Regions from separate parts of the Homo sapiens genome. Here region 2 is linked to region 1. The links come from fine-mapping of genetic effects on gene expression. Tissue or cell type: whole blood. Region 1 holds a variant in brackets; the other region holds the start of a gene. All regions are shown on one strand. Distances are between the middles of the regions.

Evidence for each region. PIP is the estimated chance that this variant, and not a neighbour inherited with it, causes the effect.
Region 2: it holds the start of HPSE2, and the variant in region 1 is fine-mapped to the expression of HPSE2 in whole blood (TOPMed, PIP above 0.99).

What each region holds. Positions count from the first base shown.
Region 1 is chr10:98,480,808-98,483,489 of GRCh38, forward strand. HPSE2 (heparanase 2 (inactive)) reads right to left here. Exons shown (of 12, transcript NM_021828.5): 11 at 1,829-1,975. Among named protein-coding and RNA genes, the nearest start is that of HPS1, 35 kb to the left of the region's middle. The variant C/T (reference allele first, on the strand shown) is at 1,362.
Region 2 is chr10:99,234,747-99,237,428 of GRCh38, forward strand. HPSE2 (heparanase 2 (inactive)) reads right to left here and starts at 1,106. Exons shown (of 12, transcript NM_021828.5): 1 at 767-1,106. The coding sequence starts at 1,056. RefSeq lists enhancers at 1,683-2,183, 2,184-2,682.

The DNA.
Region 1 (2,682 bases):
TATCCTTCCTCTTTCTCAACCAGCCAGATTTCTGAGTTGAGGAAAAGGAAGGCAATGGATATTTATTGAGCATTTACTATATGTCAGGAACTTTACACAGATTACCTCATTTACTTCGCTCCACAAAAGAGGTTTCACAGACGAGGAAACTGACGCTCACAGAGATGACATAACTTGCCTAAAGACACACAGCCAGCAAGTAACAGAGCAGGGATGGACACCTTGGCTTGTTAGACTAAAGCATTTGGCCAGTCCCCTCCACACAGTGCACACAGTCTTCCTGACACTGGGCAGGCTCAGCTCCTAAGCTCTTCGGTTCCAGAGGACCCTAACCAGAGGACCCTAATCACTGCTGCAGAGTCAGCCCTTCTGTCAGAAATGGCTTTGCAGATCATTATTTAATGGCAGCAGGAGATTTAAATGCACTCATGATCCTCAGAAAATCACACCCAGGATGAGAGTTTTCAAGCTGCACAGGACCTTACCACATGTACAACAACCCTTGAAATCTGAAGATTAGGAAACTGAGGCCAAAGGATTAGGATAAAATAATTTTCCCAGGTCATATGATTATTTAGTGGTAAAGCAGGGACCAGAACCAGGTCTCCTGCCTAGGATGAAGGCCAGGAATTCAGCACACTCATCATGAACTACTCAGAAGTGAAGAGAAAGGGGATAAAATACTCAATAGAGTCCTGCTGACATAGGTAGGACCGGGAAGAAAGAAAAACAGACGCAATGTACATGTAGCCAGAAAAAAGAGCCAGCATGTGAACCGAGACTGAAAATGAAGATCTAGCGTGGGCTAAATAAGTCACTCAATAAGTGACTTCCCAGATTGTTTTTTGCTCCCATTGCAAATACAATTGGAAGCCAAATGCAAGCCACCAAGGTTGCAGTGAAACAGTGAATAATTATAGCACAAATATTTGTGGGCAGCTGTTGGAGTGCAAGCCACCTGCTCCAAGTTTACAGCTTTGTTAAACTTGGTAAACATTAAAAATGGAATAGGAATGCCTCCAGTCTGTGCAGCATCCCATACCCTTCCTGAGAGGCCTCACTCGGGGAGCTGGGGTGGCCTTGCCCTTGACCAGGCCCTTCTCACTGTGGCCTAGAGTTGTTTTGTTTGTAGAGATCCATGTTGTCAAGTCTCTAATAGAGACTGAGGGAGGCAGGGAGTGTCACAGAATCGTTTATTTGTAGAGTTTTGAAAGGGTCACAGAGCCCTCAAAATATAATCTCTGTCCTATTATTCAGATGAAGAAGCTGAGATGGAGCAGTGATGTGCTCAAGTCATAAAGTTAGGGGCAGGACAGACTCTTTATCTCTGACCTTTTGAGCACTAAACTCTTTGTTTAGTG[C/T]TCCTTCCTGTAAGCCCTGTGAGGTTAATAGATGGTAACAACAAGGGAGTCAGCATTACAGAATGTTACAGCTGTGAGGGACATGGTTCTCAACTACCAGGATGTTTGGTTGCTACATGACCATGGGGCACTATTGGCATTTGGTGAGCAGCGGCCAAGGATGCTAAACAGCTTACAATGTGATAGTTGTGTATAACGAAGAATCATCTGGCTCAAATACCAAGAGTATCCTTGTTGAGAAATACTTTCTCCACCATTTGACTTTACAACTGGGGAATCTAAGATAGGGAGGGGCTTGAACATGTTCCCAAAAGGAGTCAGCAGTCACCTGACCCCAGACCGCTCTTTGTCCTACTCCATCCCACTGAGCCCTTGAGAGAATTAGCAGCAACCTTGGTGTCTTCAGCCTCCCCCTCCCTCAGCTCCTGCTGCACTTGCTCCCGAGCTATTTTCAGGTTGGCACGTACTTGGACTTTAGGCCCTCCTGCCCATAGGGCTGCAGCAGGTACTGGTGAACCAGCTTGTCTCTGAGAGTCCCAGCCAGCTTGATTTTCTTTCTTGATCGATGCAAGTTGATGATAAAAAGTGTAATGGACCCACGAACGTAGTTGTGGCTGAGATCCAGAGAAAGAGAGAAGTGAAAGATGGAAACAAAGTGGTCAGTTAGATGCTTCTAAATAATTTATAGACTGTACAAAATATGAACAGCCCTGAAAATGGCACTTAAAAACTTGGCCACCATAGACCCTAAAAGAAAGGAAGGCCTTGTTATTGTGGTTTCTTGCAAAGATGATAGCCACTTCCTGCCATACTTCTTTTGTTTTTGTTTAAATTTATTGCAATGATTTTAGAAAATATAATGTATATATTTTATGGCATATATTACCATAGTATGGAAGTAAAACATGCTGATTGCAAAAAAGGAAAAATATTGAGAAACAAAAAGAAGAAAAAGAAAATTCCCCATAACCCTCATATCTTGAGATATGATAATATTTTGGCAAACATCCTTCCAGTATTTTTTAGTTTATTAATTTGACAAATATTTATTGAGTACTTTGACACATTATTACTCAGTTTTTACATAACTGGAATCACATTATTCACAGAGATTTTTTTCCATTAATGAACATCTTAAACATATTCCCATGTGATTCTTTTTCTACTTGTAGAAGAATGCTAAACTTTTCAATCATAGAAGTGTAACATTACTTAACTAATCCCCTATGTTTGCAGTTCAGACAACTCATGTTTGAACATTTTTGCCATTATAAATTATGTCATGTGTATAAACTTTTTGATTATTTCTGATGGATAAAGT
Region 2 (2,682 bases), 750 kb after region 1:
ACTCTTACCGCTTCCCTTATAACGCTGTGACCCCAGCGAGGATTTTTTTTTTCCTTTAAAGAAAAGCTAAACTGTGCAGTTACCGCAGGAGATTTAAGGAGGAGGAACTGGCGGGGGGAGGGGGGCATTCCGTCTATAAAAAGCGCCTTACAAAGTCCTGAAGTCTGGAAATGACAGCGGAGGATATAAAATAAAAAATTTTAACTCCGATCCAACTTGCCCACCACTCAAGCCTCTGCTTAAATTCGTTTTCTGAGAGTGGGAGAGAACTGACGAAACGATCTTTCCGTGGAAAATTCCAGTTTCGTGCAATCCCGCTTGAACACTCACACACACACACTCTCCTGTCTCACATACACACACACACACACACACACACACATACCCATTCCTTTCAGCTCTTTGTTGTTTGAGACCTTTTCTTCGCTTTTGTAACTGCTCTGAACCTCTTGTTTCTTTTTCAGAAGTAGACGGGAAGGCTAATTGTGGATATATGTAAGCACAACATTTTTTCAGTCATAACTGATAAGTTTCTGAAATGCCTTCTGCATTGCAAACATGTGCATCTTAATAGAAAACATTGCTTTTCTCAATCACTAGTTACAGCCTCACAGCACACAATCCAGGAGAAGGAAAACCTCTTTTCTTCTCTTTGAGAGATCTGCTTGGCTTATTTTCTTCTTTCCCCTTTGGAATGGGGGATAGGAAGGGCTTGAGGGGGTGTTACTAAAAAATTTTAAATGATCCATCGAAACCCCTGCCTTACCTTAGGAAATCGAGCCAGCCATCATGAATGATGGACGGATCCAGCTGCAGAGAGAGGAAGTTCTCATTGACTGTCCTGACTGGGTTCTTGGTGCTCACATCAAGTAGAATCAGGGTCTTTTCCTTCAAACCTGCAGCTCTGTCTACAGGCAAGGGTCTCCTGTCTCCAGCCTGGGAGGAAAGGGAGAGATGGAGCAACAGAGCCAAGTAGAGAGCCCCCGGGGCTAGGCACGCGGGGGGGCGGGAGTTGCTGGAGGGCATGGCTTCAGGGAAGGCACAAAGCACCCTCATTCAATCCCTCTGATTTAAACCTCTCTTCCTACTGGGTCTCGCTAGTGACTAATTGTCCTTATCTAAAGTGTGTGTCTGTCCGCCTTTTTCCCCCCTTTTTTTCCCTTCCTCCCACCACCCCCCCAACACACACACACTCTCTCTCTCTCCCGCTCTCTCTCTCTCTCGCTCGCTCGCTCGCTCGTTTTGTTTTTTTCTTTTTTTTTTTTAATTTTTTTTAATTTTTTTTTTCAGTGTTTTGGTGCTGGTGGAGCGAACTCACGCCCCTAGCCAGCCTTCCCCGTGACTCTTGCCAAGAGAACTCGTACACCGGCACCGCCCCTTTAAGAGATTTCTACTGCAGACATTTTTTAACTTTTTAAAGGTAAGGGGAGGGGAGCAGGCGGGAAGGAGGAGAAAAGGGTGGCGTTGTACCCTCCTAATTTAACCCTCTAGGGTCAGGAAGCAGAGGGAGGAATCCAAACCATGCCGTTGTACCGTCTGGGTACAGAGCAAAGGGTCTCGTTTTTACGTCCTTCCCTGAGAGGCTCTGGAGGGCGGTTCAAGCTCCGACTCCGACCCGAAAGCCCCAGCGCCAACCCGGGACGCGCTGGGATAGAGTTCCCACCGACAGCACGCTTGTTTCTCCTGACAGCGTCAGGCACTTCGTCCGCTCAGGGCCCTTTTCTGGTTGAAGCAGCAATACCAAGGGCGGTTAAGTTGCAGAGGGGTCTTGAGGCGGTGATTCCTGTCAAAGCATAGAGCCCTGAAGGACATTCCCCGAAGAGGAGCCCTGATCTCTGTGACGCGTTGGATAGCCACACCGAAGCATCCTCTGACCTCCATAGGGCAAAGAGTAGCAAGAAGGAAAAACATAGTGACCTGGTCAAGCAGCTTTTCCGATCCGAGGGCCAAAAGGGACATGCGCCCTCGCTCTGCTCTGCTCTTCCCGCAACCGAGGAATAAGCGTCTTGGGAGCGTCAATACATGCTGGCTTTGGCCAAGTCGAAGCTACCTGAGCTGTGCTTGGATAGTCAGGGCGGCTCTGCGTCCAACTGTGCCACTTCTTGGCCACTCTATTCTGCTGCACAGGTAGAGTCCCCCCTCCAGACCCTCCTGGAGGTCAATCCTATACTTAGCCCTCCTGCAGGGAAGTGCGCCTTTACAGTGCCAGATGGGACCATAGTGACACTTTCGGGTTTCCATCTCGGCCCCCAGTCAAAACCAGAGTCACATAGCCCTGGATGGGGAATAACAGCCGGAAGCCGCTGTGATGCACGACCCGCCGCTGCTCATTGAGCTTCCACCCCACAACAGCTTGCAAATTGAACTCTAGGTCCTATCCTGAAGCGCGGGAAAGGGATCAGGCACAGTTTGCTGCAGTCACATTGCTGGGCCCCACTTTCGGCTTCTTTCTGAGACAAAATGGGACTTCTACTTGGCAGATGAAGGGAACTACTTTATGTAGTGCGGGCAGTCAGAAACGCAGAAGCGTCCAGGGCCCTCCTTGGTATCAAACAAGCAAAACCCTAAAATGCAGAGCAAGGGTTTTCCCCAGAAGTGGATGGACAAGGGTTAGTCTTAAAGCCCAGCAAACGCTGTAATAGCAACCTGTATCCTCTTACCTCCACCCAGACCAGGATTAAC